Homo sapiens: one gene and its partner. The protein of the gene in region 2 interacts with the protein of the main gene of each other region in a biochemical or structural test. Each region holds a gene or a part of one and is shown on either strand. Other genes may lie near its edges.

Region 1 (7,694 bases), on a different chromosome or scaffold from region 2:
AGGTGCTGGGGCATAAGCATCAGTTCCCCAGACACAGCACCAGCTCTGGCACATCGTGGTCACATGTTAGCTTTTTTTTTTTGCGATGGAATCTTGCTCTGTCACCCAGGCTGGAGTGCAGTGGTGCAATCTCGGCTCACTGCAACCTCCACCTCCTGGTTTCAAGCGATTCTTCTGCCTCAGCCTGAGTAGCTGGGATTACAGATGCATGCCACCATGCCCAGCTAATTTTTGTATTTTTAGTAGAGAAGGGGTTTCACCATATTGGTCAGGCTGGTCTCGAACTCCTGACCTCGGGTGATGCACCCACGTCGGCCTCCCAAAGTGCTGGGATTACAGGCGTGAGCCACCGCGCCCAGCCAAGCTCTCTGTTGATATACAAATGTCAGGCTTGGGAGGCAAGGAAGATGCAGTCCCTCTATTCTAGGGGCTTACAATTGCTATGGGTGGGGAATAGCAATATATTCCTAAAAATAGTGGGATGGATTAAAATAAATTTCAAGATGTAGAAGTGACAGAAATCAGGAATAGATGAGATGTGGGTGTTGAGAGCAAAGGGGGCACCTTCACATTTTGGGGCTTAACTGTGAGTGACGTGAGGGCCGGGGACATGCTGGCCTTCTCCACTGCTGATGCCTTTGCTTAGCACATGATCTGGCCTGGTAAATACCAAATGGAAGAATGAACAAATGAATGAAGAAATGAAAGGGAGTGAGATGGGGCACAGCACGAATGGGAGAGCCAGGAATGTAAGATTTTTTTTTTCTTGCTGTATCCCTGGGACAGGGTCTGGCACACAGCACTCTGGAAATATCTGTGGAATGAATGAATGAAATTGCTAGCCTGTGAGTACTGTCAGGGCAGAAACCATGGCTGTCTTACTCCCAGCTGGGCTCCTGCTTAATAGGTGCTCAATTAATACTTGTTGACACCACATGAAGCTCTTCCATCTAGAAATGAGTCTTGCAGAATGTTCCCTTCTACCTGGCTCCATTATTTATTCAACCAACCAATCAACTTTGGAGAACCTATCAGGCAGCCTGGAAGCTTTTATATAAGCCACATCAATTTAATTCCTCCCTCATCTTTTCCAGTTTGCCTTGGCCAGCTCGGCCTATGAAGACTCCAGGAAATGGTTCTCAACTGGGGGTGATTCTGCCCCCCAGGGGACATTTGCAATGCCTGGAGACACTTTTGGTTGTCATAGCTGGGGAGAGGGGGCAGGGAATGCTAATGACATCTAGTGGGAAGAGGCTAAAGATGCCGCTAAGCAACTCACAATTTACAGGACAGCCCCTACAACAATGATCTGGCCTCAAGTGCCAATAGTGCTGGGGTTGAGAGACACTGACTCCAGACGGGGTAGGCTCTTTTTGTCTCTGCCTGGTGGACTCTGGCAGCATGGCTGGATGGCAAGCACCTTGAAGGCAGGCACTGCATCTGTCCTGTTCATGCAGGGAACGCAGGTGTTCATGGATACATGTTTACTGAGCGATTGTGACTCTGCAGCCTGGGAGGCAGGTAAGTCCTTCAACCTTTCTGAGCCTCCTTTTTCTCCCTTAAGGCAGGCAAGGCCTACCTCACCTTCACCCTGAAGGTATCATACTGCTGCCCCTTCTCACTCCAGGCACAGTGTCATCTGGTGTCCCTCACCCTGTTTCCCACCACCTAGGCCTGGCCTTGAGAGGTTCTGTGGAAGGAATTTTGGGGAGAGGACACCACTTACTGTTGATGGACTTGAGGTCCCGGTGGATGATGGGCACAGGGGCATCATTGTGTAGGTAGTTCATGCCCCGGGCCACCTGCACAGCCCAGTTGACCAGCACGTGAGGTGGCACCCGGCGACCTGCCAGCACCCTGCTCAGTGCACCACCCCGGGCATACTCCATCACTAGGCAGAGGTGTGGGGGGTTGAGGCAGGCGCCCCTAAGGGCAATTATGTTGGGGTGCTGCAGGGCTCCAAAGAGCCGGGCTTCCTGGCACACCTGCTCCGCTGTCACTGCCGGGTCCTTCTCAGGGTCCAGCCGGGCGGCCTTGACTGCCACCTCCTCGCCACGCCACAGGGCCCGATAGACCTTGCCAAAGCCCCCCACACCGATGATCTCCTCTAGCTGCAGCTCGTGGAAGGGGATCTCCTGGGGCAGCTGGAGGCCCGCGGGTGCAGCGGGGGCGCCGGGGGCCACGTAGTTGCTGGGGAAGACGCCCACGCGGCCGCTGGGGAGCTGCCCGGTCCACCAGCCCTCGTCGCCGGACACCGCACAGTCTTGGGAAAGCACCTGGACGCGATCGCCCCTCCGCAGGGTCAGCTCCTCGTCGCCCGCCGCCTCGTAGTCGAACACCGCGGTCCAGACGGGCCCCGCGGGGGTCGTGCCCCACTCCTTGGCCACCGCCCCCTCCTCCTCCTCCATGGGGGAGGGGCCGGGGGCTGCGGGAGGCCGCTTCACACAGGCTGCCCGCGGGATGCAGAGGGCGGGCCCCGGCGGCCGGGATGGAGGGCAGTCCCTGCGGGGTCTAGGGAGCTCCTGAGGGCCATGGCTGGGGCGCCCTCCGCAGGAGCAAGAAAAAAAACCCTTTCAAAGGGCAGGCTCGTCCCTTCCGATTTGGCTGTACGGGCGGGGCGGGGCGGGGTGGGAGTGGGGCGGCAGGTTCACCCGTGCCCCCCAAACGGCAGAGGGCTAAGAGGGCCTGGCCGCGCGGCTCTCGAATGCCCGCCGGGGTCCGCCGGTGGGGGACGAGGGCGAGGGCGGCAGGCAGTCCCCGTTCCCCGCGCCGCTCACCCCGCGCAGCTCCACCGGCGGCCCCCGGCTCCGCATCCCGGGCCACGACTGCCGGGCCGGGCGGGGGTGGCGGGGCCCCTGGGGCGGCCGCCCCGGGCCGGGGTGGCGCGCCCCTCGGCCTCCTCACGCGCGGGGCAGCCGGGCGGCCCCCATCCTTGGCACCGGCCTCCCGGTCGGCCCCAGCCCCTGCCCCCCGCCCGTGCTGCTTCCCCGGGCCACCGGCGGGGCCCGAGTGACGTGTGGGCGCCGCCGCCGCGGTGCCTCCTGGGAGTTGTAGTCTCCGGCCGTGCGGCCTCGGGGCCCGGCTCTCAGCGCCCTCCAGCAGAGCCCCGCGGCCAGCCTCGGGCCGCAATGGACATGACACCCCACGAAGCCGAAGGAGTCCTCCCGGGGAGATGAGCCCGGCCTCGGCCCCTCCTTCGGACGCGGCGTAGCGGGCGCCCGGGGCGGGGGGAAGCGCTCCTCACAGACCCTGTGGGGGCCGCGGCCCAGGATGGGTTGGACTGCAACGGACGCGATTAGCAACGCGAAAAATAGGAGCTGCGTGCATGACTGTGACTGCCCGGAGCCGCGAACGCAGCCTGGACCTTATCCCTGAGGCAGGACGGCCCCTCGGACCCCCCGACCGAGATGTACGCTGGGAACTGTAGTCCGCGCGGGGACCTGGCGCTGCAGGGGGCGGCCCCCAAACAGCGGGCTGCGGGCGTCGGCGGGTGGTTGGAGCAAGTTAGGGGTCGGGCCGGTGGCGGGACTCTGCGGGGAAGATGGGGCTGGGAGGATGTGTTTAGTGTCCCTGGGGATGTCACAGCCACGTCTGCTTTCCCCACCAGCTCTGGGTTCCTCTGCTGAAGTCAGAACTCCTGCTCTTGAGAATCCCCGATTCCTATTTTATAGGAGTTTCAATTTCGGGGAGCTTAATGTGCATGTTGTATTCAGTGCTTTGTACACGTGGTATCGTTAAGTCTTCACAAAGAGCCCCATTTTACAGATGACTCATAGAGAAGTGAAGTCATTTGTGCAAGGCTACAGAGCTATAAATGGCAAAGCAAAAATGAAAGGCAGTTTTAAAAATTAACAACCAGGCCGGGCGCGGTGGCTCACGCCTGTAATCTCAGCGCTATGGGAGGCCAAGGCGGGCGGATCACGAGGCCAGGAGTTCGTGACCAGCCTGGCCAGCATGGTGAAACCCCCGTCTCTACTATTTAAAAAAAAAAAAAAAAATTAGCCGGGCGTGGTGGTGTGCGCCTGTAATCTATCCCAGCTACTCGGGAGGCTGAGGCAGGAGAATCGCTTGAACCTGGGAGGTGGAGGTTGCAGTGAGCCAAGATCACGCCACAGCACTCCAGCCTGGACGACAGGGCAAGACTCCGTCTCAAAATAAATAAATAAATAAATAACCATCGCCACGATTAACAAAAACAACAACAACAAAAAAAAAAACAACAAAAAACAAACAAACAAAAAACCCACTGCCTTTCTATTTAAAGAATGAGGAAAGTAGGTCCCGCAGAGGTTCAGTGACTTCTTCAAGATCTCTAAGCTTGTAAGAGGCAAAATTCTGGGTCTTTTTACTTGGCCTCTCCTGAGTGGTATGGGGTCTAGAGGGAGGAGAGAAGAAGAGGAAATAAGAGGGACTCTAGTGCCCAAACTCCAGAGAACTGCCCCTCAGGGTCCTTGGGGAATTGTTCCATTGTCAGAGGGAAGTGGGTTACCTGGTCTCCTGGCTACCTAGCAGGGACACTCGGAGCATATCAAAAATGCTTGTTGGAAGAGAGAGCCCCAGCTTCATTCTGAGTATAAGTGTTTCTGCTATAACCTGCTATATGCATTCTTAAAAAACCTTCAGTTCTTCAAAACGGTGCACTAAAATTAACAAGACTTCATGGAAAAAATAGAGTTAGAGACAGATTGCTCAAAATATATGCAACTAGCTGGGCACGGTGGCTCATGCCTGTAATCCCAGCACTTTCAGAGGCCGAGGAGGGAGAATTACTGGAGTCCAGGAGTTTCAGACTAGCCTGGGCAACATAGGGAGACTCCGTCTCTACAAAAAAATAAAAAATTAGGCGGGTGTGGTGGTGTGCACCTGTGTTCCCAGCTACTCGGGAGACTGAGGTATAGGGGTATTACCTGAGCCCAGGAGGTCGAGGCTACTGTGAGCTGTGATTGTGGCACTGACTGCACTCCAGCCTGAGAGACAGAGCGAGACCCTGACTCAAAAAAAAAAAAGTAAAAATAAAAACCTGTATACAACTTTTTTTTTTTTTGAGATGGAGTCTCACTCTGTTGCCAGGCTGGAGTGCAGTGGCACGGTCTTGGCATACCACAACCTCCGACTCCCTGGTTCAAGTGATTCTCCTGCTTCAGCCTTCCGAGTAGTTGGAATTACAGGTGGGCGCCACCATGCCCAGCTAATTTTTGTATTTTTAGTAGAGACAGGGTTTCACCATGTTGGCCAGGATAGTCTCGATCTCCTGACCTCGTGATCCGCCCGCCTTGGCCTCTCAAAGTGCTGGGATTACAGGTGTGAGGCACCATGCCCGGCCTCTTGTATACAACTTTATATTCAGAGTGCTACAAAACCAATAATGATGCTAATAGAAACACTAGAATAGGTAAATTTCCATGAGCATTTGCTTTCAGCAGCACTTTGCAGCCTTGAAGGTGGGGCTTATGCTTCCTCTTTGGGGATGCTGGTTGGAGATATTAACTATTGATGGGGATCATTTTCATCAAAACTCGAAATGTGATCCAAGGTGTGATCTTTTTCATTAATCTGTTATTTTAATATGGGAGAAATATATTTGCAATTTCTTCATCTGCATTCATGGATTTGCCATAGGCATAACACTGTGACAAATATGGTGGTCTTTGAAGTCACTAAACCAGCCACCGTGGATCCAAAGGAAGACACTTCTGTAGATTTGCAGCTTTTTCCTCTGAAGATCTTCTTTTAGTACTAAGGCTTCCCCTTTAACTGTGAGAAAGCTTGGCCCTGATTGCTTCAAAATGTTAACTTCCTGGAGAAAATTGCATGTTAACCAACATGCTTGTGTTATGCTGACATCATTACTCTGTTTACCAATCATTTATGGGGTGATTCATCTCAAAGAAGCAAATAGAGGGTGGGGGCGGTGGCTCACACACCTGTAATCGCAGCACTTTGGGAGGCTGAGGCAGGCAAATCACCTGAGGTCAGGAGTTTGAGACCAGCCTGGACAACATGGTGAAACCTCATCTCTACTAAAAATACAAAAATTAGCCAGGCGTGGTGGCAGGTGCCTGTAATCTCAGCTACTCAGGAGGCTGAGGCAGGAGAATCGCTTGAACCTGGGAGGCGGAGGTTGCAGTGAGCCGAGATCGAGCCAGTGTACTCTAGCCCGGACGACAGAGGGAGACTCTGGAAGAAGCAAATGGGCTGCAGAACAGGTTGTCTCTGGGCCCGGTGCGGTGGCTCACGCCTGTAATCCCAGCACTTTGGGAGGCCAAGGCGGGTGGATCACAAGGTCAGGAGTTCAAGACCAGCCTGGCCAACATGGTGAAACCCTGTCTCTACTAAAAATACAAATTTAGTCAGGGCATGGTGGCAGTCACCTGTAATCCCAGCTGCTCGGGAGGCTGAGGCAGGGGAATCGCTTGAACCGGGTGGCAGAGGTTGCAGTGAGCCGAGATTGCGCCACTGCACTCCAGCCTGGTGACAGAGTGAGACTCCATCTCAAAAAAAAAAAGAAAAAAAATTATCTTGGATTTGGCTGCCTTGTTGAACTCACTCTTGCTTGTTCTAGAATAGCTTGACAGATAATTCTCTTCGATTTTCTAGCTAGATGATCCTGTTGTCCAGAAAAAAGAAAAAAATTACAGCTTTAAAAAATCTGATGTCTATGCTTTTTTTCTTAATCCTCTCCTCTTTGGCTAGGAGTTCCAATACAATGTTGAATGGCAGTGGTATTAATGGACAATTCTTGTCTTGTCCTAGACATTTAAGGGAATGATCCTAAGGTTTCATCATTAAATATGATGCTTTCAGTAGATTTCTAGTAGAAGTCCTTTATCAGGTTCTATTCCTAACTTGCTAGAGATTTTTCTTTCTTTCTTTCTTTCTTTCTTTTTTAAATGCAGGTGTTACATTTTATCAAATGCTTTTTATGCATTTATTTATGCAATCAGATGGTTTTTCTGCCTTTAATCCATTAATGTTGATTATCTCCTCTTTCTTGCTTTCACCATTGCTGGATTTGATTTAATAATACTTTATTTAGGGTTGTTTTGCATTTCTTTTCTTTTCTTTTCTTTTTTTTTTTTTTTTGAGACAGCCTTGCTGTGTCATCCAGGCTATAGTGCAGTGGTGATATCTCAGCTCACCCACCTCCTGGGTTCAAGCGATTCTCCCACCTCAGCCTCCAGAGCTGAGACTATAGGCGCATGCCACTGTGCCCAGCTAATTGTTACATTTTTAGTAGACATGGGGTTTTGCCATGTTGGCCGGAGTGGTCTCCAAATCCTGGCCTCAAGGAATCCACCTGCCTTGGCCTCCCAAGGTGCTGGGATTACAGGCATGAGCCACTGTGCCTGGCCTGCATTTGTTTTCATAAATGGAATTTTCTGGTGTTATTCTTGCCTAGTTTTGACATTGGCGGAATGCTAGCCCTATTCAATGAGTTGGGGAGCTTTTTTTTTTTTTTGTGGTGAGAACACTTAAGACCTACCCTTATAACAAATTTCAAGTATACAATAAAATCTTATTAACGATAGTCGTGTCATTGTACATTAGATCTCTAGAACTTATTCATCTTGCATAACTGATATTTTGTATCCCTTGACTAATATCAAGTCAACTTTTTATTTTTTAATCTTTTTTTAAGATGGAGTCTCGCTCTGTCGCCCAGGCTGGAGTGCAGTGGCACAATCTTGGCTCAC
Region 2 (7,019 bases):
AAGGTGCGGTGGCTCACTCCTGTAATCCCAACACTTTGGGAGGCCGAGGTGGGTGGATCGCCTGAGGTCAGGAGTTTGAGACCAGCCTGGCCAACATGGTGAAACCCCATCTCTACTAAAGATACAAAAATTAGCAGGGTGTGGTGGCGTGCGCCTGTAGTCCCAGCTACTCGGGAGACTGAGGCAGGAGAATCGCTTGAACCCGGGAGGTGGAGGTTGCAGTGAGCTGAGATCCTGCCGCTGTACTCCAGCCTGGATGACAGAGTGAGACTCTATCTCAAACAAACAAACAAAAAGATCCAGAAAATACGTGAAATATTTAAAAAATAAAAACCAATCGTCATCCCAACACCTGATGGGAGCCACTGTAAACATTTTATCATTCATCATCATCATCATGGCTAAACACTGATGAATTGCTGACTGTCAGCCAGGGACTCTGCCAGGGACTTGAAAATCTACATCAGCACAAGATTTCTTTTTAGGGTGACGGAAATATCCTAAAATTAGATAGTGATGATGGTTGCACCACTCTGTGAATATACCAAAGATCATTGAATTGTGCCTTTAAAATGGGTGAATGGTATGGCATGTAAATTATACCTCAGTAAAGCTGTTTAAGAAAATCTACAGCCTTTGGATCGATTCTTGCATGGCTGTGTGAAATCAGAGTGATCAGTTTCTCCATGTTACAGGGAAGAAACTGAGACTCAGAAAGGTGAAATCACATGCCTCTCAGGCGCTCACATGCACACTGGGTTATCAGCCCTTTGATAGCTTCTCTATTCACCTAACATATCATAGACATTTCCAAAGTTATTCACTATGCAGCTACATCTGGATCCTCTTTCTGTTTCCCTCCTTCTTTCCTTCCTTCCTTCCTTGATTCCTTCCTTCCTTCCTTCCAGCCGGGTCTTGCCGTGTTGCCCAGGCTGGAGTGCAGTGGTACGATCATAGCTCATTGCAGCCTCAAATTCCTGAGCTCAAGCAGTCCTCCCACCTCAATCTCCGAAGTAGCTGGGACTACATGTGTGCACCACCATGCCCAGCTATGGATCCTTATTTCTTATCACCAGCATCTTGATGAGAAGGAACCCCAACTCAGCCACTAAATTATTTCCTTGTTCTGAACCTCAGTTTGCCCACCAGTGAAATAGGACACAGGCCAGCAGCTGCCTCCTAGGGCTGCTGAGGGAATGCCCTGAGATCCTGGCTGTGGAAGGACCTAACAGGGGGTGCCCATTGGCAGGTCCCAGTTCCTGAGCACGTGCCATGTGCTGGGTGCTTTATGTGCTACAGCATTGCATTCCTTTGAAATGGGGACCCAGGTTGGGGGTGAGGGTGCATTCACCCGCTGAGATTTTTCTCCCCACCCTGGCTAGTGGCCTCCTTTCCCTGACCTAAGAAGAGAGGCACATGAGACAGAGTGATTAAAGAATAACACAGTCATGACTAGATACGTTGTTAATATTAACCATGGTTGGAGCCGCCCTCTGCCAGGAGCTCTGAGCCCAAGGCAACGGGCTTCTTTCTTCCTCTACAGCTTCCCATCTGGGAGAAAACAAAGCCCCACCCCACACAGGGAGGGCCAGGTCATGGCAGGAGAGGGTCATCAGAGAAGGCATCCCAGAGGAGGTGTTGGCTGATGTGACACTTGGAGGAAAGACCCAGTGAAAGAGGAAGACAACGGCAGGGTGAAGAGCTTTCCAGGGGCCAGCCACCTGGAATCCTGTAATCCCAATACTTTGGGAGGCTGAGGTGGGAGGATCGCTTGGGGCCAGGAGTTCAAGCCCCAGCTTGAGGCCAGGAGTTTGAGACCTGGCTTGAGGCCAGAAGTTTGAGACCAGCCTGGGTAACATAACAAGACCCTGTCTGTACAGAAAAAAAAAAAAAAAAAAAAAAAAAAGAGGCTTCCAGGCGAGAGAACAGCATATGCAATAGCACCCCAGGAGAGTGAGAGAGAGGGCACGGCCCTATTTTTCCCACGCACTGTAATATATTCAGGTAGACCAGGAGGGAGCGGCTGAAAGGAAGCAGGACTGGGTAATCAGCCCTCAGGGGCCCAACTCAGGTGTGGGGTTCCGTTTTGAGGGCAGGGAATCCAAAGAGGGCTTCAAGCTAGGAAGATAGATTGGGAGGCTGGAGAGAGTTTCATGCTGTCGGGCGGGGAATGGATTAGGGGGCAAGGGAGGAAACTACCTCTGCTGCTAAGACAAAGGGGCTGGAGTCTGAGGTAGACAGGAGTGAACTGGGCAGAATCCACAGGGCATGGGGACCAAGTCAGATGGGGAGGATGGGGGAGCCGGCAGGCAGTTGATCTTGGGGCCTCTGGCCAGGGCACTGGGAAGATGCCATTCAGGAGAATATTTTGAACACCTTCCAAGCTCAATATTACTTTTTTTTTTTCTGTTGCTTATAGTAATTCTAAGTTGCCAGGGCTGACTTCTCCAAATGATTCTTGTTTCTTAGCCAGATTTCATTCCAGGGAATGGGTAAGAGTGCCAGAGAGTCGCCCAGGAAGAGGAGAGGAGGAGACACTGAGGTGTGTAGGTGTGTGCACACATGGGTGGGACTGGGGTGGGGAATAGGGTAGACAGAAACATGGAAAAGTGTGGACTGGAGGCAGGAGACCCATGCCTGTTCCTGGCCTGCCTCTGATTCAATTGCTGTGTGACATTAGGCAGGTTCCCTACGCTCTCTGTGTCATTTTTGCCATCTAAAAACCTGGTGGCTCACACCTGTATTCCCAGCACTTTGCAAGGCCAAGGCGGGCAGATCACCTGAGGTCAGGAATTCGAGACCAGCCTGGCCAATATGGTGAAACCCCATCTCTACTAAAAATACAAAAATTAGCCAGGCATGATGGCGGGTGCCTGTTAGTCTCAGCTACTTGGGAGGCTGAGGTAGGAGAATTGCTTGAACCTGGGAGGCGGAGGTTGCAGTGAGCTGAGATTGTGCCACTGCACTCCAACCTGGGTGACCGAGCAAGACCCTGTTTCTAATAATAATAATAATAATAATAATAATAATGCCAAATAAATACAAATAAAATAAAAACCTGGTTGGAAGGCCAAAGTGGGAGGATCACTTGAGTCCAGGAGTTTGAGGCCACCCTGGGCAACATGGTGAGACCCCATCTCCACAAAAAATAAAATAAAAAACTTAGCTGGGTGTGGTGACACATGCCTGTCATCCCAGCTTCTCGGAAGGCTGAGGTGGGAGGATGGATGGCTTGAGCCCGGGAGGTCAAGGCTGCAGTGAGCCAAGATCGCCCCACTGCACTCCAGCCTGGGTGACAGAGTGAGATCCTGTCTTACAAAACAAAACAAAACAAAACAGACAAAACAAAACAAAACAAAAACTTGGAATGATAGAAGACATCAGTACTGCCCTTAGGCCTGGGGAATGGAGCCCTTAGTCTGAGACTTACACTTAGGGGTCCCTCTCTGGACCTCCTCTGGCTTCACCCTCCCCATGGGGCAAAGAGTTCCCCAGGGGCCAGGGGAGGTGCCCAGCTGAAGCCTGTGCTCCCCTCGTAGGCTACGCTCAGATGCCCCAGAATTCCCTCTCAAGCAGTTCCAAGCCCACCGCCCAGGCCCAAGTGGGGACCAGCCCAGGCCCAAGGTGGGTCCTTTCTGGAGCTGGGATATGAGGGCTGGGGTGTTCACAAGTGAACCCTGGAGGGATAAAGAGGGAAATGACGGGGCAGCCTGCGGAGAGGGGACACCTGTCCCCACGCCTCCACATCCACCACGGAACTCCAAGGAGTCTGAAATTCTGAATTCAAACCCAGCTGGTCAGGTTGTGATGAAGGTGTGTTTGTTATGGTGGGAGGGCAGAATGTATTGCATTTAGCAATTCCTCAGCTTGATTTATAACTGGAATACATAGACATATGGCATGTGGGCGTCCGTTTCTCCACGCCTGACAGCACTGTGTCCATGACCCACTTCCTCCACTCCTGCCCTGCCCACCCTCTCCACTCTCCCACCTGCACCCCCTTCCCTGGGTCCGACCCTCTGACCCAGCCAGGGCCTGGGAAACTCAATTCTCCTGGCGCCGAGATCAGATGCTGTCTGCCAGGGTCACCTTTCACTCCCAGCTCCTCTGGGCCACGGTGGGGTGTGGGTTTGGAGAGGATGTCCTCTGGCTGTGGATGGGTGCATTTCCATGTTTCCAGCCCCAGGGGTGTGCTCCACATGTGGCCCACAGGCAGTGTGTGCTTAGCACGTGGCAGCTGCGTGCTCTGAGCATGCAGAGGCTGGAGCAGAGTGTGGCAGCTCTCCAGGTGGGTGGGGGGGTGTCAAAGGGCCCCTAACAGGCCCCTCAAGCCCCGCCTCCCCAACCCTCCTAGTCTCACCTCTGGCCTCTGCTCCTCACTCAGCCACACTGCCCTTCATCCTTCATCCGGGTTCTCAAACCCGTTGGGCTCTTTTCCCCCTAACTCTTTGCTCAGGACAGTCCCTGCACCTGCGGAAGTCCACACCTTGGCTTGACCACGTCCTAGTCTTGCTCAGGTCCAATCTTAAATGCTACCTCCTCAGGAGGCCTTCTGATGGCCCAGAAAGCCCCCCTCCCCTCAATGTCAGGCTCCTTGCAACGCAGGAGCAGCCTCCTTCAAAATACACGACAAACGTGCTCTTTGTGGATTTCATGTCTGTCTGCCCCGATCAGCCGCAAGCCTCCCCAAGCAGGATGGGTCTGGCTGACTCACAACTGTATCCTCAGGGCCTGGCACACAGCAAGTGCCAAGGAAATATTAGTTCCCTCTGCCCCATCCAGGTCATCGATACTCTGCCTAGGATGTCTCATTTATCCCCTAATAGACTTTGGCCTCCATCTCCAAATCTGAGAAATGGGACCACTATGATGCATCCTGGTGTGTTCAGAGGAAGAGACAGAGCTTAATAGTGGGGAGGGGGCTGTCTCCCCTGGGAAAGGCTAGGTTTGACAAAGAGAAGGGCTCTCAGAGTCCAGAGACCAGCATCACGTCCATGCTGGGATAGAATGCAGAGCAGAGAGCTGAGTGCTATGGCTCACACTTGTAATCCCAGCACTTTAGGAGGCTGAGGTGGGTGGATCACTGGAGGTCAGGAGTTGAGACCAGCCTGGACAACATGATGAAACTCCATCTCTATTAAAAATACAAAAATTAGCCGGGCGTGGTGGTACATGCCTGTAATCCCAGCTACTTGGGAGGCTAGGGCAGGAGAATCACTTGAACTTGGGAGGTGGAGGTTGCAGTGAGCTGAGATCGCGCCATTGCATTCCAAGTCTGGGTGACAGAGTGAGACTCCATCTCAAAAAAAGAAAAAAAAAAGAAAAAAAAGAATGGGGAGGAAGGGACAAGGGCATTGGGGGAGACAGAAAGCCTGGGGGTGGGGGGTAGGCAGAGTTACGGGGAAACCTAAAACCCTTCCTCCCAGGCTGCTCCTTCGGCTCTGGGCAGAGGGTCGCTCCTCAGGACCCCTACCCTACCCTGGATGGAGAAGATCCCCAACCCGTGCCCCCATCCTGGTGCACCTCCCAGCCCACGCCATCCCAGAGGGCTTGCCTGTCTACGCCCAGGCAGGGATAGAAGCAGCGCGTCCTCCATGCCAGGCCCTGCCCCGAGTGCTTCCTGGGGATTGTTTCAACACTCACCATAATCTCACAAGGGATGTGCTATTATTATCCCCATTTTACAGATGAGGAAATAGCAGCTGGGCAGGGTTTGGGGAACATGCCCAGGGTTTCTCTGCTTGTAAGTGGCAGAGTTGAGCTTCATACTCGGCAGGTCTGACTCCACACCATGCTCTCGGCCCCTCTGCCACATTCCCACCAGACTTGGCCTGCCCTAGGACAACCCACTCTTGGCCCTAGAGGAGCACTGGGGTGGGGGGTGTAGCGGGGCGGGGGTGACAAAGAGGAGCTGGAGGGACAGCGAGGAGGCCCCTTTGGCCTAGGGCACCAGGCATCTGTTCATGAAAGGCTGGTGTGTGCTGGGTCCACAAACACTCCCCCATCTACACTTACCCCCAGGATGAGCTCATCTACTCTCGGGTTTAAATCCCATCTCTACACCAACGACTTCCAAATTTTTACTTCCAGCCCGTCTTCCCCCTGAGCTCTCAACTTGCATCACCAAACTGCCAGCTGACATCTTCCACTTAGAAGTCTAACAGGCATCTCAGGCTCAATATGTTCAGAACCAAACCCTGGTCTTCCCCCATCCCCCCAGTCTGCTCCTCCTTACTCTTCCCGACTCTGTTAATGGCACCAACACCCACCCAGGAGCTCAGGTCAAAGTCCCAGAAGTCATCATTGATTCCTCTTTCCTCACCCTCCACATTCATCCTCCAGCAGGACTTCCTCTAAAATATATCCTGAAACCCACCCACCATTCTCCTTCTGGTTGCAGCTGAAGCCCTTGTCCAGGCCCCCCACTACCCCCTGCCCACTGCAGCAGCCTCCCCACCAGTCTCCTGCCTTTTCCCTCACCCGCTCCCCAAGTCACACCCTTGCTAGAATTAGCTCATCACTCCACTACTAAAAAGCTTCCCACAAGAGAGAAAATAAACCCAAACTCCTCACTCCTCATGGCCTAAGGGCTTTGTAGATCTAGCCCCTGCCTATCTCTCAGGTCCTGTCTCCCCCTTGCTAGCTGAATACCAGCTACAGGGTCTCCTTTCTGTTCTTCAAAGGCACCAAATTCTTTGCTACCCCGGGGCCTTTGCACCTTTCCCTTGGCCTGGAACTCTCCCGCCCCTGGCAAGTTACACAGCTTCTCATCCCTTGGTTCTCATCTCAGATGCCACCTCCTCCTGGAGACCTCTGACCTCCCTGGGGAGAGCAGCCCCACTCCCCTCCCTGACGTTCACCACATTTTCCAGTTGTCTTCTGAGTTTCTCCCTCTGCAGTGCAGAGTCTTGGTCTTTTCCACCATAGAATCCCCAGTGCTGAGACATCGTGCACCCTCCACAAATGTTTGCTAAATGACTGAATGAATTGGCCTCAGTTTTCCCTTCTGTAAAAGGGAA

Evidence for each region. The genes of interacting proteins can lie anywhere in the genome.
Region 1: the proteins of DNM1 (region 2) and MAP3K10 form a complex in vitro, tested with the Homo sapiens proteins (one study listed by BioGRID).

What each region holds. Positions count from the first base shown.
Region 1 is NC_000019.10:40,186,746-40,194,439, reverse strand, and holds the start of MAP3K10 (mitogen-activated protein kinase kinase kinase 10), read right to left. Parts: upstream 3,015-7,694; 5' UTR 2,409-3,014; coding exon 1,727-2,408; intron 1-1,726. UniProt on the Homo sapiens protein: Activates the JUN N-terminal pathway.
Region 2 is NC_000009.12:128,206,360-128,213,378, reverse strand, and holds part of DNM1 (dynamin-1), read right to left. Parts: intron 1-7,019. UniProt on the Homo sapiens protein: Catalyzes the hydrolysis of GTP and utilizes this energy to mediate vesicle scission and participates in many forms of endocytosis, such as clathrin-mediated endocytosis or synaptic vesicle endocytosis as well as rapid endocytosis (RE).